Linked DNA regions of Homo sapiens. The protein of the gene in region 2 purifies or fractionates together with the protein of the main gene of each other region. This does not show direct contact. Each region holds a gene or a part of one and is shown on either strand. Other genes may lie near its edges.

Region 1 (5,714 bases), on a different chromosome or scaffold from region 2:
GCACCCTGGATTTAGTGGCCCTGGGTGTGGGCAGCACATTGGGTGCAGGCGTGTATGTCCTAGCTGGCGAGGTGGCCAAAGATAAAGCAGGGCCATCCATTGTGATCTGCTTTTTGGTGGCTGCCCTGTCTTCTGTGTTGGCTGGGCTGTGCTATGCGGAGTTTGGTGCCCGGGTTCCCCGTTCTGGTTCGGCATATCTCTACAGCTATGTCACTGTGGGTGAACTCTGGGCCTTCACCACTGGCTGGAACCTCATCCTCTCCTATGTCATTGGTGAGATATGGTGGGGGAGGGAGGGAACTGCACAGCCAGCAAAGGGGTTTTTGGTCAGGAAATCTGGGTGGAAGTATTCTTTATATTATTCACAGGACCTCAATCTCCCTAAATGTGCGGGTTTGCTGGGGGTCTGGGGGGGGGTGTTGAAGGTGTGGAGAAATTGCTCATTCTATCCATCTCCGTCCTGGTTTCCTTAATTAAGTGAATGGTTTTGGTTCTTAAAAAGTAATAATAGGCCAGGTGCAGTGGCTCACGCCTATAATCCCAACACTTTGGGAAGCCGAGGCAGACAGATCACCTGAGGTCAGGAGTTCAAGACCAGCCTGGCCAACCTGGTGAAACCCTGTCTCTACTAAAAATACAAAAGTTAGCCGCGCAGGGTGGCTTACACCTGTAGTCCCAACTACTCAGGAGGTTGAGGCAGGAGAATCTCTTGAACCTAGGAGGCAGAGGTTGCAGGGAGAGGAGATTGTGCCACTGCACTCCATCCTGGGTGACAGAGTGAGACTTGGTCTCAAAACAAAACAAAAGTAAGAATAGGTGAAAAAGGCAGGGACTTGTGTGAGCCTGGGGTCTGGGAAGAAGGGAACTTGGCCACATGTTTCTCTCTCTGCTACACCAGGTACAGCCAGTGTGGCCCGGGCCTGGAGCTCTGCTTTTGACAACCTGATTGGGAACCACATCTCTAAGACTCTGCAGGGGTCCATTGCACTGCACGTGCCCCATGTCCTTGCAGAATATCCAGATTTCTTTGCTTTGGGCCTCGTGTTGCTGCTCACTGGTGAGGCAAAGAGCAGGGTATAATGGTGGGGGTTGGGCCAGGAGGGGCTAGTCCTTGGGGCCAGGGATAAGGATGGGGGATGGGCCTGAGAAAGGCTTAAGGGAGGTGATAATGGTGGGGAAGAAGAAAAGCTGGGAAGGAACCTAGAGGCAGGGAAACAAAGCTTGGACTGAAGACTTTCTGGGAGTCCTGAATGCATTTCTCCCACAGGATTGTTGGCTCTCGGGGCTAGTGAGTCGGCCCTGGTTACCAAAGTGTTCACAGGCGTGAACCTTTTGGTTCTTGGGTTCGTCATGATCTCTGGCTTCGTTAAGGGGGACGTGCACAACTGGAAGCTCACAGAAGAGGACTACGAATTGGCCATGGCTGAACTCAATGACACCTATAGGTTAGATGGTCACTCTTAGGAGCTGCAGAGCTGGGAAAATGAAGGGGAAGAAGGGGATCTGCTGAAGGATTCTGGATGGGGATGGGAAAAAATGGGAGGCTGGGCTTTGAAGACCTAGCTAACTGGTTTGGCATTAGAGAAAAGATACAGAGTTGGCTGAACACACCCTTACCTTCTCCAACCCTTCTTCCACTCTAGCTTGGGTCCTCTGGGCTCTGGAGGATTTGTGCCTTTCGGCTTCGAGGGAATTCTCCGTGGAGCAGCGACCTGTTTCTATGCATTTGTTGGTTTCGACTGTATTGCTACCACTGGTAACACAGTCATTCCATTCTGTTTGGGGCTTGGGCACAGTGTGTGCCCAGGCTGTATGCAGACTGGGGGTGGTAGAGGAGTGGGCCTGCTTCCCTAATTTAGAACCTTACGCCCTTCCTTCAGGAGAAGAAGCCCAGAATCCCCAGCGTTCCATCCCGATGGGCATTGTGATCTCACTGTCTGTCTGCTTTTTGGCGTATTTTGCTGTCTCTTCTGCACTCACCCTGATGATGCCTTACTACCAGCTTCAGCCTGAGAGCCCTTTGCCTGAGGCATTTCTCTACATTGGATGGGCTCCTGCCCGCTATGTTGTGGCTGTTGGCTCCCTCTGTGCTCTTTCTACCAGGTCAGTATCAAATGTTTGTTTTCTTCTGCTGTCAGAGTCTCAGGTTATAGCATTCAGTACCAGAGAATACCCCTTAAAAGGGCTGTGAGGGGAAAGTGGAGACTCTTTAAACATACAGTCTTGGGAAGAGAGATCCCAGTCAACTCATGCCACCCTGGGCATTCTCCTCTCCAGCCTCCTGGGCTCCATGTTCCCCATGCCTCGGGTGATCTACGCGATGGCAGAGGATGGCCTCCTGTTCCGTGTACTTGCTCGGATCCACACCGGCACACGCACCCCAATCATAGCCACCGTGGTCTCTGGCATTATTGCAGGTAACAGACCCTCTTTCCCCTTCCCTTAGTTGTTTCGCCAACTTCTTTAACTTTGCCACTCCCTTCTCTCATTTCTTGTTTCCTGCCTATTAATTTTAGCATTCATGGCATTCCTCTTCAAACTCACTGATCTTGTGGACCTCATGTCAATTGGGACCCTGCTTGCTTACTCCCTGGTGTCGATTTGTGTTCTCATCCTCAGGTGAGACTCTTCCTCTGCATACTGTGATTTGGATTTTTATTCTTGGATGAGGAATGATGGAGATCTGCTCCTCTTTCCTCCTTCGCCTTCATTATTCCAACTTTCTTTGAGGAATCTGGGTATCTCACCCTGCCAAAAAGAACTTCCCTTAATGGTGATGAGGAAGGTTAAGCTGCCTGGGAGAAGATGATAAAGTGAGTAAAGGTTGTTCTTAATACTGCCATCTTACTTTTGCCTCAGGTATCAACCTGATCAGGAGACAAAGACTGGGGAAGAAGTGGAGTTGCAGGAGGAGGCAATAACTACTGAATCAGAGAAGTTGACCCTATGGGGACTATTTTTCCCACTCAACTCCATCCCCACTCCACTCTCTGGCCAAATTGTCTATGTTTGTTCCTCATTGCTTGGTGAGCAGTGGAATTTTTCTGGGGTGGCTCTGAGATCAGCGTGATTGGGTCGAAGTGTGTGGCATTTGGTGGCTGAGGAAGAACTAGAGAGAGAGCGACTCTCCTTGGAACAGGGTTTCTAATGTCTTAGCATGTTGGTCTTAAGAGTTGGTTTTGATGTCTCTCAACTTGACCTTTGAAGCTGTCCTGCTGACTGCTCTTTGCCTGGTGCTGGCCCAGTGGTCAGTTCCATTGCTTTCTGGAGACCTGCTGTGGACTGCAGTGGTTGTGCTGCTCCTGCTGCTCATTATTGGGATCATTGTGGTCATCTGGAGACAGCCACAGAGTTCCACTCCCCTTCACTTTAAGGTAAATGAACTCTGTCTTTTTTCCTTGCCAGCCCATCTTGGGAGAATAGGCTCCAGATATCTTGAGGTCTAATAAAGTTCATAGATATTCTTTAATTGAACATGAAAGGGAAGATATAGGAGGTACCTAGGCCAAAGACTTCTTCTCTGACCCTCTTTAGTTCCTTTCCAGTTCCATTTACCCAAACTGCATATTCTTGGAGTCTCATGAGGTATGCTAAATGAGCAGCTACTGAAATGCAGAGGACAAGTAAGAGTTGGACTCACCCTTTTCTGGCCTGCATAGGATAGGGATCTCTTTCTAGGTCAACCTGTGGTATGTACAAAGAAGATTTTACTTTGTTTTCAGGTGCCTGCTTTGCCTCTCCTCCCACTAATGAGCATCTTTGTGAATATTTACCTTATGATGCAGATGACAGCTGGTACCTGGGCCCGATTTGGGGTCTGGATGCTGATTGGTAGGTATCCACTTGGGAAGAGTAGGCTTCTTTGGTGTCCTAGCCCAGCTCCTTTCCCTCTTGGTCTCAAGTAGGAAACCTATGAAGCCTTTACACCCCCACCTCACAGCTACCTTTCCCCACTAGGCTTTGCTATCTACTTCGGCTATGGGATCCAGCACAGCCTGGAAGAGATTAAGAGTAACCAACCCTCACGCAAGTCTAGAGCCAAAACTGTAGACCTTGATCCCGGCACTCTCTATGTCCACTCAGTTTGACATCGTCACACCTAAATGCTGTCTGGTCCCCTGCACAATAATGGAGAGTACTCCTGACCCCAGTGACAGCTAGCCCTCCCCTGTGATGGTGGTGGTGGATACTAATACAGTTCTGTACGATGTGAAGGATGTGTCTTTGCTATTTCTTGTCTATTTTAACCCGTCTGCTTCTAAATGATGTCTAGCTGCTTACCAACTTTAAAAAATGATATTAAAAGAAAGTAGAAAAATAAACTGTGTCCTGTTTTTTGCTTGCTAAAGATGTAGAGCCTGACTTTTAAGAGTGAAGAGCCTCAGAGAAGTGTCCTTTGTGTTTTCTTCAGTTACCACAAAAGCATCTGCTGTGCCTGTGGGTGCTTCTTGTTGAATCAGGGTTTGAGGAGGGTGGTGTAAGTAGGTAGCCATCCAGTCCAGTCACACTTAAAGGAATGGTCTTGAGATATGTTTTCCCCTCATTACACTTAAGGTTAGGTTCTGGATAAGTAGACAGCAACACTTGTCTCTGGGATTTGGGGTGGACTCTGATAGCAACACTGACATTGGTTAGGGCCTACACTGAAACTATTGGCTTCTGTTCCACCTCTTCTAGTTGGACCAGTCCCACACTCCTGTAACTGCCTGAGCATCAGAAATTTTGGCTGCGGTGTTTGGCACTGCTGGGAGGAGGGGTGGATAGTCAGGGGGTTTGGTAAGGGACCACATATATTAATATATGGATACTGTTTGCTGCAGAAGTAGTAGGAAAATAGAGGTCAGAGCTCTGCTCAGAACGAGAACTATTCATTCATCCATTTATTCAACAAACATAGGTGAAGCTCCTATAAAACGTTAGGTCCTGTGGTGGGTGCTGGGGATACAAATGTGAATAAAACATAATCCCCACCCTTAAGGAACTCACAATCTTGTGGAGGAGACAAGCAGGTAAATATGACTACAAAACAGTGTGATTTGTACCAGGGCAGTGCAGAGTGCTGTGGAAGCACAAAGAAGGACATGCTTGAACTGAGTCTGCAGTAGATGCTTAAGAAGTGGACTGAGGGAAGGGCTTGGCTGTCAGTGTACAGTGTGCAAGAAACCACGGAAGTATGAAAAAACATTCAAATTGTGTTTGGGGTGTGGCATACAGTTTAATGTAGCTGGAGGGTAGCACATATGCAGCTGTGGTAAAAGATAAAAGGCTGTATACATGGCCTTGTATACTAAGGAATTTAGATGTTATAAGTGTGTGTGCAGAGAAAAAGAAGTGGGAAGGCCAGGTGCGGTGGCTCACGCCTGTAATCCCAACACTGGGAGGCTGAGGTGGCCGGATCGCTTGAGCTCAGGAGTTGCAGGCCAACCTGGGCAATATAGTGAGACCCTGTTTCTACAAAAAAATAGAAAAAATTAGCTGGACGTGGTGGTGCACATCTATAGTCCCAGCTACTCAGGAGGCTGAGGTGGAAGGGATCCCTTGAGCCTGGGAAGTTGAGTCTGTAGTGAGCTGTGATAGTGCCACTGTACTTCTGCCTGGGTGACAGAGTGAGACTCTGTTTCAAAAAAGAAAAAAAAAAAGGTGGGGAGTCACTGGACAACTCTAAGCAGGGGGATGGTTGGATTTGTGAGTGTGAGTCTGGCAGCAGCAAGGAA
Region 2 (9,921 bases):
AGTGAAAAATCAAAGAAGTGGTTAGACTTCGGGGCTTATATGCCATCTTAACAAAGGGTGATAAATTGAAGAGAAGTAACTAGATAAAGAAAAGGGGGTTTGGGTTTATACAGGTGGTAAACTGTGAGAAGGTAAAAATATAGGGGAAACTAATGGTAGATAAGGATTATAGTAAGGTTTCTTTGTGCAGACTCATCTTGGTGCTGTCTCCACTTCTGGTGGTAAGGGTTGTTTTCCTTGTCTCGGTATGGGAGAAGAATGGGGACACCTTTGTGAGAATTTATGCTCTTTTAGGCAGATAAGGACAGAGAGCTCTTGCTGTGTCTGATTTTCTCATTTGCCTTCAGGTCAAAATTATCCTTATGCCAAAGTGGCATATTTGGGGGGGCAACATATTCTGATTCCATTCAACTCCCAAATTTATACCTCCAGCCAAGACTTCTCCCTGAAATCTGCTTCTCATATAGGTGGCTGTGCAATCCATATTTCCTCTTGGATGTCCATTAGGCTTCTTCACATTAACACACCAAAAACTAAATTTCTATATTTTCATGCCAAACTTCTTTCACTCTTATATTTCTCATTTTAGTAAGTTACAATTCCATTCTTCTGGTTGGTCAAACCAAAAATCTTGAAGTTATCCTTGATTCCTCTCTTTCCCTCATATTCAGAATCTCATTGACTCTACCTTCAAAATATAACCAGAATCCAAGATGTCCCACTGCCTCTGTAGCAAACACCCAAGTCTAAGCCACCATCATCTCTCACCTGTTTGCTGCAATAACCTATGTCCCCACTTCTATCCCTGTATCTCCTCTCACAGTCTATTCACAACACAGCAATCACGGTCCTTTCTAAACAGAAGCCATTTTATGTCATTCTTCTAACCCTAATCCATCGTGGCACACCCTCTGAAGCCCTCATTTTACTCAGAGTGAAAGCCAAAGTCATTAAATGGCCTACACAATCTAGCCCCATTTCCCTCTGATCTTATCACCTACTCCTCTTCCTCTATTGAATCTGCTTTAGCCACTGACCTCCATACTATTACTCAAACACACCTGCACTCTCCCACCTCTGAACTTTTGTAAATGCTGTTCACTCTACCTTAAGTATGGTTTCCTAGGACACCCACTGGCCTTGCTCCTTCTTCTTCTTCATGCCGTTTTTGGTCAAAGTGGATCTCCTCAAAGAGGACTGCCCTGACCATTTAAGTTCCAATTACATCCTCCTTCCCACTGCAAGCAGTCCCTTTACCCTGCTTTGTTTCTATTGTAAGGCTTTTAACATACAGTGGGCCCTCCCTATCCAAGGGTCCACATCTGCTGATTCAACCAATTGAAAATACTTGGGAAAGAAAATTAACAGAAAATAACAATACCACAATAAAAATAATACAAATTTTAAAGTTACATAGTATAAAAACTATTTACATAGCATTTACATTGTACTAGGTACTATAAGTAATCTAGAGATGATATAAAGTATATGGGAGAATGTGCATAGGTTATATGCAAATACTGTATCACTTTTTATGAGGAACTTAAGCATCTGCAGATTTAAGCATCTAAAATCTAGAACTAATCCTGATTTACTCACTGTCATTCACTGTTACAGATTTTTGACAGGGGTCCTGCAATTAATCCCCAGCCAATACTGATGGACGACTGTACCATATAATTTGCCTTCTTGTGTTTTACAGTCTGTTCTCTTCTTCCCAAAATATAAGCTCCACAAGAGCAGGATGTTTGCCTCTTGAACACTAGTATATCCTCAGTGTCTAGAACAAGGACTGGCACATAATAAGCCCTCAATAAACATTTGTTTAATGAATGAATAAATATAACTCATTTCCTCAAAAATCTCCAGTAAAGTCTCTTGTAACTAATAGTTTTGCTTTGGCAAAAGAAAGAACAGGGGCCAGGTGCAGTGGCTCATGCCTGTAGTCACAGCACTTTGAGAAGCTAAGGCAGGCAGACTGCTTGAGCCCAGGAGTTAGAAACCAGCCTGGGCAACATGGAGAAACCTGTCTTTACAAAAAATTAAAAAATTTAGTTGGGTGTGGTGGCACGACCTGTGGTCCCAGCTATTCAGGAGGCTGAGGTGGGAGAATCCCTTGAGCCCAGGAGGCGGAGGTTGCAGTGAGCCGAGATCGCACCACTGCACTCCTACCTAGGCGACAGAGCAAGACCCTGTCTTCAACAACAACAACAATAACAAAAAATACTCCTCGTTTGGGAGAGAAATAACTGTCAAATAATAAGAGTAAAATTGGAAATTCAAAAGTAAGTTGGAACTAGAAGTGGCTAGGGGAAACTCCTTACTGCCACCATCAATAATATAGATGGTGTGCTGGGAAAAGGATTTGAGCTATTTTTATATAAATATTTTTATATAAATATTAAATGGAAAGGAGACCCAGAAATTTGACCCATAAATCTGAGGTTATATGTGTGAACATTAGCCATCATTCATGCTGCTACACACAACAGGGAGTCATGGAAGGAAGAAGGTCTGGAGTGTAAAGAGCATAGAAGTGAGGAGAACAATTAAAAGGCCATTGCAATACTAGTTCACGTAGGTGATGATAAGGACTTGAACAAGGCAATGGTAATGGGAATGATAAGGGAGGGAAGAATTCCAAATATCTCAGCTGTAGAATCAACAGGATTGGTGACTGACTGGCAGAAAGGCATGGTTGGGATGCATCCAAGGTTTCTAGCATGAGTAATTGAGTGAACAACGATGTAGTTATTAGATTTTTACAGTAAAAGGGGCAGGTTTTGCTGGGGAAATGGTGATTTTTAGTTGGACATCCAGTGGAAACATCCAGAAGAAATCTGGAATTAAACATGAATGCAGTATTTTGGAATTAATCTGTAAACAGAATGCACAAATAGAAGAGACAAGAGGAAGGTGAACATATAAAAACGGTGGCCAGGAACATGTGAGAATTGGGTAAAAGGAGAGAAGTCAACGAGAAATCAGAAAGAAGTTGATATACATGCCAAAGAAGGAAAAGAAGTCAAGAAGAACAGTCAATATTGTCAAATACTGAGTAAGATGCCAGCTGAGAGAAGGTATTGGGTTTGACAAAATAATTGTTACTGGATGGTGGAGGTAGAAACCAAATTGTTGTAATCTAAGGAGTGAATGACAGAACAAGAGGACACTAAATTAAAGCTCTGCTGATGAAGAAAATAGTAAGGCAGTAACTTGAGGATGAGTCATTGTCTATAAAGGATTTTTATTCCCCACCATAGTCCTAACCTAACATTTGACATCTATCTAGTAGGCACTCAATACCTACTGAATGCAATAATATTTTCATTTATAGACCAGGTCTCCTATAAAATAGTCCAGTGTTTATGTCCACATAAAACAGCACAAAACAGATTCATCATTCTGGGTGGGTAGAGGGATTGAAGGAAATAAAGACATTTCATATTCTATATTATGTTTTGGGTTAATTGGCAAGAATAATTACTTCTTTCTCACCCCATCCCTGACTATACACACACCCAAATTATAGATTATAGAGGAGAAAGGAATTAAATGACTCCTGAGACCAGAACTGCATAGTCCAAAAAAAAAAAAAAAATTCAGCAATCTTACTTTATTAAAAAATTAGGCATCAAGATGCTGCAATTTGCCTTACTTACATATTTAATTGCTCTTAGGTTAGATATATAATATGGGAAACCTGGAAAAAAATTTTAATGGTATAATAAACGCTTACAACCTAACATTAAGTGAAAAAAGCAGCTGCCTTATTGCATATGATCTCAATTTGGGAAACAGGAAAAAATATAAATACAAACACACATGCACACACACACACAAAGTCAGAATACTATAAGAAAATAAACTGAACGGTCACAGTGGCTCACGCCTGTAGTTCCAGTTACTCAGGAGACAGAGACAGGTGGATCGTTTTGAGCCCAGGAGTTCAAGACCCGCCCGGGCAACATAAGGAAACTCCATCTCCACACAAAAAAAGTAAAAATTAGCCAGGTGTGGTGGCTCATGCCTGTAGTTCCAGCTACTCAGGAGGCTGAGGAGGGAGATCAGTTGAGACGAGGAGTTCGGTGATGCAGTGAGCCGAGACTGCGCCACTGCACTCCAGCTTGGGCAATATAGAGCGAAACTCAGCATCAAAAAAAAAAGAACATCTTTCTATTCTGAATTTTCCCAATTTTCTACAATTAAAAACGCTTTAAAGATCTCTATAAAGTCAGTCAAGGGAATTTCTATCTAAGCACTTACCAGCAATTTGAGCTCCTTCTCTTTTGGTCTAGGTGGCTCTAAAATAACAATAAAGGCTACAGTGATTGAAATTCACCAGACTTGAAATAGACTGCAGCCTTCTTCCTTCCCACCTTCTTAGAATCTTTGTCCTATTCATCTTCCTTACGCTTCCCCGGGTTCTCTTACTTCTGGATTCTAACAGTGAGTTGTGAGAAGCAACGCGGAAAACGGAATGGAGACTCCAGCTTGTTTTAAACGAGCTGTATTACCCCGCACAGTGCAGGAGAAAAGATAATTGGCTCAGGTCTCGGCTCTGCCATCTACCACCTGTGGAGCCTTAGATAAGTCAGTTCTTATCTCTGTCACTCAACGGTCTCGGTCTTGTCATCTTTTACATGGAATGTCATGAAATATACAGTACATTGCAGGAACTGCCTCAGGTAAAGACTTCTAGGGTTCAGTAGGTCTCAGTCGATCCCTCTGAGAAAGGCCGCACCCTAAATGCACAGACTCTGACTCTAAGGGGATGGGGTCGGGGAATCTGCATTTTAGTAGCTTCTCAGGTGATTCAGATGCTCAGTCAGGATTGAGAAACCAGGACTCTTCCCAGCCCTCCTGTTCTCTGATCCACTTCTCTGCTTCCTCCACGTCCTAACGATTCTCCAGTTCCCGCACAGCAGGAGCGGAGGGAAGAGGGGAGAGAAGGCACCGCTAAGGACCGCTGGCCCCGCCAGGCGGCCGACCTCCCCATTCCAGGGGCGCCAGCCGGCGGATTACATAACGGGCCTCGGGGCGCGTTCTCGCGAGGTTTCCACCGCCCCCTCCTCGCTCCACGTCAGAGGGAACCGGGCGGAGCGGCCAACATGGCGGAACGCAGGAGACACAAGAAGCGGATCCAGGTAGCAAAGCCGAGCTCTGGGCAGGGGGCTTCGGCGCGCTGGATAGTGGAAGGGGCGGGGAAAGCCCCCTAAAAGGGCGAGCGAAAGCAAGGGCGAGGTGGGGTGGGGTGGGGTGGGGTTCCGCCGCGAGGCAGCTGGCTGCAGGCTGCGCGTTGTGAGGGGCCTGAGGGGGGGCGGTGTTGGCGACGGCGGAGACAGAGACGGAGGTGGTGGTGGAGCAGCAGGGGAAGGAAGGAGGCGCCGCGCTCAGAATCCGGCTGCGGAGGCGCGGCTGTGGGCCTGGAGTTCCTGTGGTCGCGCTGTCCCGGGCCTGAGCTGGAAGGTCAGCCTCCCCTGGGGCGCAGACGCTGACCCTTCCCGGGGCTCCTCCCCTCCCTTCACCCCATCCTCTGGCCTTAGCTGGCCTGAAATTAAGGCCACGGTAATAGGGGTAGCAGGAGGCGGCGGACTGACCTAAAGCAGCTGGTTCTTTGTGCGCATAGACCGTAAGGGGGAATGATCTGGACTTGGTCAGCTGCCTCGGGGCCTAGGCAGGGATCTGCTCATCCAGATGTTCAGTTGCGTTGCCCTTCTTTCCCTTCAATATTATTAACTTAATAGTCCACTTGAAGCTTGCCGGCTTTTTTCCGGGCGACGTGGTGTAAACAACCACAACCTCGTTGGTGCTGCAACGAGCTGGTGGAGCCCAGAAACCTTTCACATGCCAGTGTGTCATCCTCGTAGTAACGTACATAACATCTCCCCCTAATTCCACATGCGTGTCATTTGTGCATTTCTTCCTTGCGATTTTCCCTGGTTCTTGTTCTTTGCCAAGAGGATTAATTATGTAGAACATCTTGGACTCAGGATATTTATTAGTCGTCTCATCAGCTGATGTGCTGAGAAACCTTCATAAGCCCTCAAATTGATCACATGTAGTAAATTGTTACTATAATCATAAATTGTTACATTCATCATTGCCTTTCTGTTCCTTACTATTTCATTGCTTAGAATGATTTTTTCTTTCTTCCATTTTATCCCTTCTTTTTTTTTTTAAGTTTATCGATTTATTGGCGTACAATACAGATGTTTTGAGCTATGCAAGTTAAAATTCTTCTGTAAACTTTTTAAGTGCTGTGAAAAAGACACACATGATCAGTAAATTTGGAATTTTGGAATTTGGCAGAAATAAAGTAGTTCCGAACAGGGTGCAGAAGGGAATTAGAAAGAGGCAGATTTCGAGTTCAGACAGATAAGACTAGGTCTTAAGATCAGTAGAAGTTTCTAATTATACTGTTCTTAATCTTTCAAGAGTTAGTGTTATTCCTCTGACGTGGGTATACAGTATTTTATTAGATTGTATATTGAAATTGTCTGTCAGATTTGTACTTACAGAACTCCTTAGATTTACACTTGACAGTACAATTTTATGCCCTTCAATACACATTGTTTTACAATTCCAGTTGCTCTTTAATATTGTTGTAAGGGCTATATAATTCACCTTTTGAATAGCTGCTCTTATTTAGTTGTGATCTTATATTAAACAGAGGCTGTGGAGTAATGTGACAGTGGCAGAGAGCTAAAACTTGAGCCAAACTGCCTGTTTGTACCCCACCTCCACCAATTATTGGCTGAGTAACTTTGAGCAAGTTAATTTTTACCTCCCTGTCTGCATCGGTAAGAAAACATATTTACCTCAAAAAAAAAAAAAGCAAGAAAAAAGAAAAACTTTAAGATTGCTGTGAAAATAATAGGTGAGTCAACTTATTTATTAAAAGTTATTAAAAGTGTTTGGCACGCAGCCCCTCCCTTCTATTCTACTCCTTACCCAGGATGAAGGATTTAGATTGGATTGTTATTTTATTTTTTGTTAACTACTCTTTGATATGCTGAAGAAAGATTAACAACCCTCTATTCAGTAAACTATTAGGTTGGGAGTTATGTAGAGTATAGCTGTTTACTTTCTATTATTTGAGGATTGATTATTAAAATCTACTGGGCATACTGCAAAATTAAGTGACATTTATTTTTCTGTCCTTGAAATTTTCTACATGGCTGTATAAAATGTTTGTGAGAGATCTTAGAGTACTACTTTCATGCAGCCTAACACACTTATGAAAATATACTAGCCTAGAAAGTACCTCAGTTTTATCATTCCAGATAATCAGAAACTATAATACATCACTTGTGATAAAAAGATCAAATGTAATGAAAAGTTCAGAGTTTAACTTACAAAAAAGATCCTGTTGTAGAATTTTTAGGCAAAAGGTCTGTAATACCAACTGAGTTTCTGTCATTTGTTGCTTGATGTTTTATGTTTAGAAAGATGGTTAATAGATTCAGTGATCTTTAATTATACTTTGCACATTGGGGAGAAATGTTTGATACAAACAAATAAGTTCAGGGTTAAAAAAAAAAGTAGCTAATTTGCTTTTTCTTTGTAATTCAGTATAATTTCAGATTCTCGTGTCCCATCGAAGTTTCTAGCAAGAGGACTGTTGTCACATTTCCTTCTTGGACTCATTACTGGTCACTGAAAACCAGAAGTGAGCTACATGTACTCATACAGTAACTACATATAGATTAACAATGTGCTGCTGCATAGTAGAAGTTGATTTACAATCCTGGTATCAAGAAATTTTAGAGTTTAAAAGGATCTAGTAGGGTTTGTTTGGAAGCCTTTTTCATAAATTCAGTCTTAACATGAAAGCAGAGTGGTGATCCTACAGCTGACTGATCTCACCCAACACCCTCGTTTTTCAGATAAACTGAGGTCCAGTGAGGTTTTGTGACTTAATCCAGGATCGTCAATCAAGATAGTAAAACCAGATTTAGACCAGGTCTTCTGATTCCCAACTGAATACTCTTTCTGTCTCACAATAGATAAAAAATAAGTTGCTTTGAAATACTTTAATCCTGACTTCTTTATTATTGAATTATGCAACGTAAAGACTTAACATGACTTGTCCTTGCTAAAGAGAATCATCCCATTCAGTATTCTGCTTAATGTCCAGTTGAGTTTTGAGACATTTAAATGGCTAATTCTTAGAACTTTTATAACCCTCCATTAGTTATTTTTGTTGCACCCATCTGTCTTCCTGGCAAGCAATAAAACCTTGACATATCATGGGCTTATGTGCTTAATTTCAGGACAGGGAAGAAAAGAGAAAATTTGGGACTATATAGCCAGACTATACAGGTCTAATTTCTGACTCTGAATATTCTGAAGAGAAAGAACTCAGGAAGCCAGTCCTAAATCAGAAAACTACCCCTCAAAGGCTTAATGGAGGGTTTTGCAGTTTAGCAAACCCATTGCTAAGGAAAGAATACAATAGAAGGGAGTTGGAGCTATTACAGAAGGGCACTGCTGTTGTCTAGATACTCTTGTATAGTGTTATTTGTGTAGCACATATTGTTACTAATGATTAAGGTCCCCTCCAGCTTTCAGATCTTATTGTTAAACTACTATTTGCATTTTTCACAAATATTTTATACTGCTTGAACCAAGCCTTTTTCTTTTTTGCTCAGTTCATGGTTGACAGATCAACTAAGCTAATTTTTATTGGATGTAGTAATTTTTAAAAGTTCCTCTGTATCACAAATTCTGTAAGATTGGTGCCTGTGACATACTTACTCTTGATTTTTTTCTCAAAAAGGTTAAATATTGGCTAAAATAACTTAGAAATGTCAAACTCTATCTTATTATAGTATTTGAGTGTCGGTGTATTCTAAAGTAAAAAACAGTATTTATTAAAGAATTTTATAAGAGTATTCTAACCAAACTTCCAATTTAAATAATTTTGTATTTTAAGTTACAGCACCCAGTGTATTGGTGTTGGGTGCAAAGAAAGGAAAGGCAGTCCAGCCTAAATTTATTGGCTCTTAGCTTCCTCATTGTAAGACAGTTGTGTTCATTCATTGAACTAAGAAGTTCTCTCCATTTGTTTGAAGATTGATAGGTTGGTTTCTCTTTATTAGTGGGTGCTACTATTCCCAAAAGGCCTTCACTTTGTTAGAAGTCTTCTAGGAAAATTATAAAAATATTCTGTTTACATCAAAAGAGAACAAAGAGGGGGAGGTACTGTAGTCCAATGTATAAACAAAAAGAAGGTAAAACTTTTATACCTTCTTATGCTGCATCAGGAGAACAGTGAAAGTGAAGACTGCATGCACGTTGGATGTGGTGGCTTGTGCTTGTAATCCCAACTATCTGTTCATGTTCTCATGGTACTTTTTTTTTTTTTTTTTAAAGAGACAAGGTCTCACTGTGGTGCCCAGGCTGGAATGCAGTGATGGCATCATAGCTCACTAGAGACTCAAACTCCTGGTCTCAAGTGATCCTCTGGCCACAACCTCCCAACTAGCTGGGACTACAAGTGTGTGCACCACCTCACCTAGCTAATTTTTTTTAATTTTTTGTAGAGATGGAGTATCAGAAAGTTACCTAGGCTGGTCTTAAACTCCTGGTCTCATGCGATCCACCTCGGCCTCCCAAAGTGGTGGGGATTACAGGGATGAGCCACTGAGCCCTGCCTCTCATGGTACTCTTCTACAGCAATCTATCTTTCTGGCTTCAACGCCAAAGCAATGGCACAAATTATATTGTTGCATTGAAGGCAGTCTACAATATGGATAAGTTATTATAAGTTAATAAATTGCAATACTTTAAGAAAGTATCAGTAAACAAGTTAATTCTGTGTCTAGTTGGGAGAGATTATCCAAGTCCGTGTTTTCTGGTCTCTTCCTTTCATTGCCTCTTGATAGTGCCTTTACAAAGGACAGGGTGCAGTTTTAG
Region 3 (9,696 bases), on a different chromosome or scaffold from region 2:
CCCAATAGTTTAAAAAGTGTTCAGGTATCATCTTGCATGTTGGTGAAACTAGGAAGTATATTTACAGACAAAAGCTCCTTAAAGGCAAGGTTGGCTTAGCCTTACTTTTTTTTTTTGAGACGGAGTCTTGCTCTGTTGCCCAGGCTGGAGTGCAGTGGCACGATCTCGGCTCACTGCAACCTCCGCCTCCTGGGTTCTAGTGATTCTCCTGCCTCAGCCTCCTGAGTAGGTGTGTGCCACCACGCCCAGCTAATTTTTATATTTTAAGTAGAGATGGGGTTTCACCATGTTGGTCAGGCTGGTCTCAAATTCCTGACCTCTAATGATCTGCCCCCACTGGCCTCCCAAAGTTTTGAGATTACAGGCCTGAGCTGCTGTGCCCAGCCAATAACGTCTTTTGAATAAAAGAAAAGATATTGTTAGGGAGTATGAACATCACCAGAAAATGAAAATGTTTCTTAAAAATAAACGAATTTTTAAAAATTATTTTCTTAAAATGAAAAATTTTTTTCTTCTGGACTAAATTGCAATGTGGAAAGAGTCACATCAGCCTTTGGACAGAACTAGGGCTGTGATTTACTACAGGGAAGTTAGCATCTTTCTGAGTTTTCTTAATGAACACGTGAATAAGAGATTTGGTTATACTTTGTGCTTATTTAGCATCCTCTCTTTGAGGATGTCAAAAGGATTTTAGAAATGTTCTCTTTCTCACACAGGTGGACGTCTGATTTATGAAGCTCCCCATCCACCTATCTGAGTACCTGACTTCTCAGGACTGACACCTACAGCATCAGGTATCTTGCCTTTCTTTAGTCTTAAAAGCGGTAACTAAGTTCCTTGAGGAGATATAGGCAGGGAACACATTAACTTCGTTACGTTTCATATAGGCCTGGGAACCGGAGTTGCTGCTGTAGTCCTGGTTCTACCATTAAATGTGTGACTCTAGTCCCTTTTCTTCTCTAAGCCTCAATTTTTTCTTCTGCAAATAGGTGGGGTTGGACGGGGTGCTATCTAATCACTTGACGGTATTATGGTAGTCTACTTTTATCCGAAGCTTCACTTTCCACAGTTTCAGTTACCTGCAGTCAAACTTGGTCCAAAAATATTAAATGAAAAATTTCAGAAACAAACAATTCACAAGTTGTAAATTGCACACCGTTCTGAATAGTGTGGGTGAAATCTCATACTGTCCATGTGATTTGTCCCTTTGTCCTGCGATTCCACACTGTGTGTGCTACCTGTACATTAGTCACTCAGTAGCTGTCTCTGTTATATACAGGGTTGGGTACTATTCACAGTTTCTTTTTCTTTTTCTTTTTCTTTTTTTTGAGAAGGAGTCTCTCTGTGTCGCCCAGGCTGGAGTGCAGTGGTGCCATCTTGGATCACTGCAACCTCTACCTCCCAGGTTCAAACAATTCTCCTGCCTCAGCCTCCTGAGTAGCTAGGATTACAGGCATGTTCTACCACGCCTGGCTAATTTTTGTATTTTTAGTAGAGATGGGGTTTTGCCATGTTGGCCAGGCTGGTCTCAAACTCCTGACCTCAGGTAATCCTTCCCCCTCGGCTTCCCAAAGAGCTGAGATTATAGGCGTGAGCCACTGCACCTGACCCACTATCCAGTTTCAAGTATCCACTGGGGGGCTTAGAATCCACTCCTCAGATAAGTGGGGGTGGTTACTGCATTCTCTTTGCCCTCTATGTAAGCCGTCAGCTCTCCACTGTGGATTATTCAATTCCTTTATTATTTAATGGCAGGATGGCTTTTCCCCCGACTCACCCTCCTCAGCTCTGCAACTTGAAACTGTCTTCCCAAAACATCTAGCTGGGATGTTGGATTCAAACCTATGAAAATTCCTCAACTTAAGAGTATTTGGACAGATAGCACAGAAGTCGTGGCTTTTAGACCTTAGCTTTTCCCTACCGGCTTTCTGTTTGCATTAAGCTAGTATTTGACACTTGATGTCTAGGGATTCTTACCTCCTTTGGCCAATGGTACTTCACACCCATATGCTAGTCCTTTTATGCTAAATGTGGGTTTTCCTGTTGTTTTCCAGGTACACAGCTTCTCCTAGCATGACTTCGATCTGATCAGCAAACAAGAAAATTTGTCTCCCGTAGTTCTGGGGCGTGTTCACCACCTACAACCACAGAGCTGTCATGGCTGCCATCTCTACTTCCATCCCTGTAATTTCACAGCCCCAGGTAAGGGCTTCAAACTAGCAGAGGTCTGAGGTAATCGTAAGTTTGTCAAATATTTAAACTGGGTTTCAGGAAGTGTATTTGACTCTAGGGATCATGTATATCTCTCTCGCTATCATTTGGTGTGTATTCGAATAATGGTGCTTTTGTGAGTGAGGTGCCATTTCGTTCAGGAAGCAGCTGGAACAATGAACAAGTGATTTTAGTGAACTGGCCTCTGTTCATAGGAGGCCTTGGTTTTCAGTGCTTAGGATGTCTGACATTATAGGCATCAAACTCTAAATCAAAGTAAGTCAGTAGTAAACCCTGCTGCTTTTCCTCTCTTGGCTTTTTTGTGGGCCGGGGGGTGGGGTGGGGTTTAATGAAATATATCAGAATGGATCTAATTTTATAACAAGTTTTCTGAGGGCTGTCTTGTTGTCCTCCTCCTATACTTACTCTTTTGCCTTGATCTGTTCTAGGAACTTTGAAACAAAATGCAATTCCAGAAACTTCTGAGCAGCAATCGTATGAGTTATTTTTTTCTGTCCAGTGAAGAGCAGTAATACGGCAGGGACATGGTCTTTGTTCAGATGATTTTACAGCCTGATTTAATCAGGCATTGGCTGGACTCTTTCAGATTCACCAGGCAGCAGGGTACAATGTGGAAACAGACTTTGGAGTCATAAGGCCACAGTTCACATCCCTGCTCCTCTGATTGCAGGATAAAGAGCCCTAGTCATGCTAGCTTCTCTCAGCTTCAGTTTCCTCTCATGTAATCATTCCTCACATGATGGTTATATGGATAAAATGATGGTTCATATACATGAGGCATACAGAGGTGCTCAGCAAGTGTAGTTTCCCATTTACTCTTCATTTATCTTCTTTCTATAGTGTGACCTCCTTTCTTATTTGTGACAATCATTTTTTGGCCAACTTTATTTTTATTTATTTATTTTTTTGAGAGAGAGCCTTGCTCTGTTGCCCAGGCTGGAGTGTAGTGGCATGATCTTGGTTCACTGCAATCTCCACCTCCTGGGTTCAAGCGATTCTCCTGTCTCAGCTTCCTGAGTAGCTGAGATTACAGGCGCCCGCCACCACGCCCAGCTAATTTTTGTATTTTAGTAGAGATGGGGTTTCACCATGTTGGTCAGGCTGGTCTTGAACTCTTGACCTCAAATGATCCACCTGCCTTGGCCTCCCAAAGTGCTGGGATTACAAGCCTGAGCCACTGTGCCCGGCCTCGGGCAACTTTGAAGAAAAAAGCATACTTTCAAGAAAGAGCCATACTGATTGAAATTTGAACTTGATACAGAACGTTGTTCCACACTGTTTTTTTCAGTATGATTTTGCAGGCTATTCAATTTTGTATGTATTTTAAGTAGGGGTTTGTGTGTTTGTGAGAGAAGGAGAGAAGGAGGAGAGGGAAAAAGGAGAACAAGGGGCATTTTTCCCTCATATAGTATAGTGTTTTCTCCTCAACACCATTTGGGATGTCATCATTGTTATCAACCTTGGGATTTTATCATATGAATAAAGCCCTTTATTCATATCATATGAATAAAGAATAAAGTACTAAGGCCTTTAGTATTATTTTCCAGAATGTTTAGTGTTACCATCGTCATACGCATTCCTCTTTCTGGTAAGTGGACCATTGTCCTTTCAACACTTCATTTACTTTGGGTGTTTGGTTTCCCTTATCTTCAATAGACTTTTTTGGTGTCTGAGAGACTTGGAGAATGGGCAAAGAGATTTAGTGCCTGTTACCTGAGGTCACCATTTCAAAGTCCACTGCAGCTGTTCCCATGTAATGACTCTTCTTAGTCCTTTCGTGAAGTGAGTTAGGCTAGTGCGGGTTTTCTAGACAGGGCATTTCCACATCCCGGTTTGCTGCTGTCATCTTTCAGCATTTCCAACAGCATCTTCTTATCTATATATCTTCTCTGTTACACAAGCTCCTATCAGCTGGTGAGGAATAGAAATACCTCTAAATGACTCATTTAATTAAAATGTTTAACACTGCCCAAAGGAGAAAGAGGTTCTATTTCATACAATCACTGGGGGAAATGTGTACTCTCGTAAATTCTCTGTGGGAAAGTAAATTGGTACAGTCACTCTGGAGGGTAATTCAACAGTATCTATTAAAATTATACACTTCTGCACATGCCCTGCTCCTGTCTTGGAATCTACATTAGAAAACCACTCACACATGAGCCCAAGGAGTGTATAAGGAATGTATAAAGATATTCATTGAAGCATTGGTTGCAAACCAAGAAGTACAAAATTTTGTGAATATCCAATAGTAGAAAGACTTAATGAATTCAGGAATGTGGACATGATTGAAATACTATTCAGTCATTTTATTTATTTCTTTTTTTTTTTTCTGAGACAGAGTCTCATTCTATTGCCCAGGCTGGAGTGTAGTGGCACGATCTTGTCTCACTGCAACCTCCACCTTCTGGGTTCCAGCAATTCTCCTGCCTCAGCCTCCCAAGTAGCTAGGATTATAGGTGTGTGCCTCCATGCCTGGTTAATTTCTGTATTTTTAGTAGAGACGGGGTTTCACCATGTTGTCCAGGCTGGTCTCAAACTCCTGACCTCAGGTGATCTGCCCATCTTGGCCTCCCAAAGTTCTGGGATTACAGCCATGAGCCACTGCGCCCGACCACTATTCAGTAGTTTTAAAATGAGGATGTCTACACAGCTATATATTACTCCAAGATATCGTATGGAGGAAAAAGAAAGCAAGACGCAAAATAGTACTTATGGGAAGATACCATTAAAATTCTAAAACAAGACTGTGTATTTTTAGGGAGAAGTATATGGTACATTAATGGAAATGGATAATGAAAGTCCTAGAACATACATTCTTAACATAGTTATATTGCCCCAAGAGGACAAAAATTGGGTTTTGGGAGATGAAAAAAATCCCTCCAGAGCTTATACCTCTATCCAACAAAATCTTATTCCTTAGTATTTAGTTTTTTCTCATTAGAAAAAATTTAAATGTAATTAATTTTTCTCCTTAAGGATCACTAATGAGAAAAAAATATGGCCAAGAAACACTGGTTTCTTGAGGGAGGCACATAGGCTCACCAGTCACCCTGCTTCAATTTACTAATTACCTGAGCCTGAGGGGAAGGTATCCACCCTCTTAGTGCCTCTATTTCCTTACCCACGGAATGAGCATAGCATTAATGAAGCCAACCTGATAGGGTTATTTTAAGGCGGAAATGAAATAATTTCTATAAAGCTCAGAATAGTGCCTGGCACATATTCTGGGCACATATTGCCCAGTGCATATTAGCAAGCATTGTTATTATTGCTCAGCAAGCCTTGTGGCAGGGCTGGGGGATACAAGAATAAATAAGAGAAATAAGTTTTGCCCTGCCAGAGTTTACAGATATAGTGGGAGATACACAGATAAAACAAAAAGTTACAACGCTTTGTCACCCATGCAGGAATGCACAAATACAGGAAGTATGGGTGCTCTGGGAGGAAAGTGGAGACCCAAGAAAAGATTTAGAGGATCAGGGAAGGCTTCTTGAAGGAAGACCACTAGGCTGAGGACAAATTAATATGAGTTATTTTGGTAAAGGAGAAGAAAAAGCATAGGTGAATGTCAAGTGTCCCAAGGTATGTGTGTGTGTGAGAGAGAGAGAGAGAGAGGGAGCAAAGCATTTAGAATTTTGTTTTGGATGGTTGCACTACAGTGGGGCATGAGATTGTAAACAGTGATGTCCCTAGAGCCACCTATACCAACTCACAGAAGCAGATTGTTAAATTTTCAGGAATTTCGCGAGCCAATTGACTTCATGCCAGCAGCTTGAAATCAGCCACATGGAATAGTTATACTGCAGAAATCGGCAAGTGCTAGAATTAGCATAAATGGGTTAGGTTATAAAGTTGGAGATTTTACAGGGTCTTTCAAACCGTATTAATGAATTTAACATTGATCTTAAAAGAAGTCTTTGTTAGCTTAATGGTCCCAGCCTTTGAAATAGACCTGGGTTCAAGTTCTGACTTTCGATAATAGTTTTATTGAGCAAGTTTATTAATTAACCTTAACCAGGGTAGTTGCATTATTCTCACCGTATTTTGGGAATAGTGGCAGCCTCTGATGGTTGGGGAACTAAGCCCACGGGGAAGGAGTCAGCTATACACTGGGACATTAGGTCATAGAGATAGATAGCTTCTTCTGGAGAGATGCAGACCATTGGGTCACTTGGTTCCCAGGATCCTTTGGCCAATGATGGGCCTCCTAATTATATGTCAATTCCTCACATGTAATTTGTACAGTGAAATTTAGTCCAAGGCTGACTTGCCCTTGCCCCGAAGCTTCTACTGATGTCTTCTCTCTTATTATCAGTTTTGCCCAAGTTCAAAGAAGGTAAAAATAATTTAGATATAGCATCTTCTTAGGCAAGCATAATAAGCAGCTCACTCAGTCACCTTAGCCTGGTATTGTCTGGCACATCAACTTGCTTTCTTTTCCAGTGAATTCAGGGACCTTGTAAAGATAAATCCACATTCAAGTGTGAAAGGCCTGAAAATCCTTTTCTAAGGCCAAAACAACAATTTTTTAGAAAAACTTTTGGTTTTGTTTGTTACTCTATTCATTGGGTAACAAAGAGCATTTTTCTAATCAAGGCTGCCTAATACTACATATAAACGAATTAATATGAACAAATAGCTTGTGATTGTTTCAAACAATAATAGGGAAGAAAGCTTGCATTGTCACGCCTGCTGGGATTGCTGTTTAGTTAGTTGAAAGATATGCCTTGTTTTTTGAAGTGGGGCAAGTTTGTATTCTCTGCTTTACCCCTGCCTTGACTCTGAGACAGATTTTTGTTTTCTCATGCTGAGAGAGCACCTAGCTCTTACAAAGCTAGGTGATGAATACTAAGACGAAACTGGACTAGCAGCAGCAAGAAGATGCCGTGTTTGTAACCGATTTATAATTCTGCTGGTCCAGACACTGAAAAAGAGTTTTCTTATCCAAAGGAAACTCCTGGGATGTATTTGCAGACAGGAACCTGTTCATCATTAGGTTGAGTTAATGTGTTCGTATCCTGTGGATATTGGGGGCATGGGGATGGGGTAGGAAACCAAACAAACTTGCAGCTCTCCAGAGCCATTTTCTGTTTCTAGCACTGTGTTAAGCATTACCCTGTGCTTGATCAGGTTACTGTGGATAGAAGTTGGATTAAAAGTTTCATTTTCATTGTTCATGAAAGAGTCAATAGTTCAGTACCAGAGTGAGCAGTTTGGCTTCTCTTAAACCTAGGATTATATTAGAGGCCAGAATAGGTATCTGAAAACCTAAAAGATATTCAGGTCTCACACCTGTGATTCCAGTAAGGCAAGAGTCTTCTTTATCAGTATTTTTCATGGTGTATCATTCTGTCTCTCATTTGTTACATGACCATTTTGTTATTTTTTAATTTTCATTTTTATATTTATTTGAATTTAAATTATTTTATTCTAAAATATTTTACTTTAAGTTCTGGGATACATGTGCAGAACATGCAGGTTTGTTACATAGGTATACATGTGCCATGGTAGTTTGCTGTACCTATCAACCCATCATCTAGGTTGGTTTTTTTTTTTTTTTTCTTGAGATGGAGTCTCACTCTGTTGCCCAGGCTGGAGTGCAATGTCGTGATCTTGGCTCGCCACAACCTCTGCCTCCTGAGTTCAAGCGATTCTCCTGCCTCAGCCTCCTGAGTAGCTGGGACTACAGGCGTGTGCCACCATGCCTGGCTAATTTTTATATTTTTAGTAGAGATGGGGTTTCACTATGTTGGCCAGGCTGGTCTTGAACTCCTGACTTAGTGATCCGCCCACCTTGGCCTGCCAAAGTGCTGAGATTACAGGTGTGAGCCAGCATGCCCGGCCCATCATCTAGGTTTTAAGCCCGCATACAATAGGTATTTGTTCTAATGCTCTCCCTCCCCTTTTCCCCCACTCCCAGACAGGCCCTGGTGTGTGATGTTCCCCTCCCTGTGTCCATGTGTTCTCATTGTTCATCTCCCACTTATGAGTGAGAATATGTGGTACTTGGTTTTCTGTTCCTGTGTTAGTTTGCTGAGAATGATGGTTTTCAGCTTCATCCATGTCTCTACAAAAGATGTGAACTTATTCTTTTTTATGGCTGCATAGTATTCCATGGTGTATATGTGCCATATCTTCTTTATCCAGTCTGTCATTGATGGGCATCTGGGTTGGTTCCAAGTCTTTGCTATTGTAAATATAGTGCTACAATAAACATGCGTGTGCATGTGTCTTCATAGTAGAAATGATTTATAATCCTTCGGGTATATACCCAGTAATGGGATTGCTGGGTCAGATGGTATTTCTGGTTCTACATCCTTGAGGAATCACCACACTGTCTTCCACAAAGGTTGAACTAGTTCACATTCCCACCAACAGTGTAAAGGTGTTCCCATTTCTCCACATCCTCTTCAGCATCTGTTGTTTCCTGACTTTTTAATAATCATCATTCTAACTGGTGTGAGATGGTATCTCATTGTGGTTTTGATTTGCATTTCTCTAATGACCAGGAATAATGAGCTTTTTTTCATATGTTTGTTGGACACATAAATGTCTTCTTTTGAGAAGTATCCGTTCATATCCTTCACCCACATTTTGATGGGGTTGTTTTTTCTCTTAAATTTGTTTAAGTTCCTTGTAGATTCTGGATATTAGACCTTTGTCAGATGGATAGATTGCAAAATTTTTCTCCCATTCTGTAGGTTGCCTGTTCACAACCATTTTGGTTTTAAGTCAAGAACATAAAGATATTTTGATCCCTCCAAGTGATTTCCTGTAGCTTTCATTGAAGATGTGAATTTGGGTAGATTTTCAATATCTTAGTTAAGAGATTGTTCCTCCAATTCTCATTCAGTGTTCTGATAAAAAGTGATTGCGGCTGGGTGCTGTGGCTCACACCTATAATCCCAGCACTTTGGGAGGTTGAGACTGGTGGATCACCTGTCAGAAGTTTGAGACCAGCCTGGCCAATATGGTGAAACCCCGTCTCTACTGAAAATACAAAAATCAGCTGGGTGTGGTGGCGTGCACCTGTAATCTCAGCTACTCAGGAGGCTGAGACAGGAGAATTGCTTGAACCCAGGAGGCAAATGTGGCAGGTTGCAGTGAGCCGAGATCGCACTACTGCACTCCAGCCTAGGTGAAACAGTGAGACTCTGTCTCAAAAAAAAAAAAAAAAAAAAAAAAAAAAGTGATTGGTGTCTGTTTGTTGTCTTTTGGAAGACACTTTTTTTTGGACATCCTTACCAATAGGTACTCTCAACAAAATATGTATTTTCAAAATCTGTGTTTTAGGTTTTATTTCTGTTATTAGAAAGTGGATTTTTTTTTTATCAAAGCAACTGAATTTCACATTAAATGGGTTTTTTTTTTGAGGCTGAAAGATTCGTCTTTTTGGATAGAACTTTGTACTATGGCAGTTTTCAGACATTCACAAAAATAAAAATAACAATCTCAATATAGCCA

The links.
Region 1: the proteins of SEC62 (region 2) and SLC7A3 purify together in Homo sapiens (affinity purification with mass spectrometry; 2 studies listed by BioGRID and IntAct, with this or other methods). This does not show direct contact.
Region 3: the proteins of SEC62 (region 2) and LPAR1 purify together in Homo sapiens (affinity purification with mass spectrometry; 3 studies listed by BioGRID and IntAct, with this or other methods). This does not show direct contact.

Annotation. Positions count from the first base shown.
Region 1 is NC_000023.11:70,924,187-70,929,900, reverse strand, and holds the end of SLC7A3 (cationic amino acid transporter 3), read left to right. Parts: coding exon 1-273; intron 274-898; coding exon 899-1,057; intron 1,058-1,267; coding exon 1,268-1,445; intron 1,446-1,643; coding exon 1,644-1,756; intron 1,757-1,880; coding exon 1,881-2,103; intron 2,104-2,277; coding exon 2,278-2,417; intron 2,418-2,516; coding exon 2,517-2,619; intron 2,620-2,859; coding exon 2,860-3,026; intron 3,027-3,207; coding exon 3,208-3,374; intron 3,375-3,722; coding exon 3,723-3,831; intron 3,832-3,957; coding exon 3,958-4,088; 3' UTR 4,089-4,322; downstream 4,323-5,714. UniProt on the Homo sapiens protein: Uniporter that mediates the uptake of cationic L-amino acids such as L-arginine, L-lysine and L-ornithine. The transport is sodium ions- and pH-independent, moderately trans-stimulated and is mediated by passive diffusion.
Region 2 is NC_000003.12:169,961,712-169,971,632, forward strand, and holds the start of SEC62 (translocation protein SEC62), read left to right. Parts: upstream 1-5,095; 5' UTR 5,096-5,111; coding exon 5,112-5,147; exon of another isoform or gene 5,148-6,880; intron 6,881-7,575; exon of another isoform or gene 7,576-7,672; intron 7,673-9,921. UniProt on the Homo sapiens protein: Mediates post-translational transport of precursor polypeptides across endoplasmic reticulum (ER). Proposed to act as a targeting receptor for small presecretory proteins containing short and apolar signal peptides.
Region 3 is NC_000009.12:110,964,579-110,974,274, reverse strand, and holds part of LPAR1 (lysophosphatidic acid receptor 1), read left to right. Parts: intron 1-716; 5' UTR 717-794; intron 795-2,054; 5' UTR 2,055-2,157; coding exon 2,158-2,202; intron 2,203-9,696.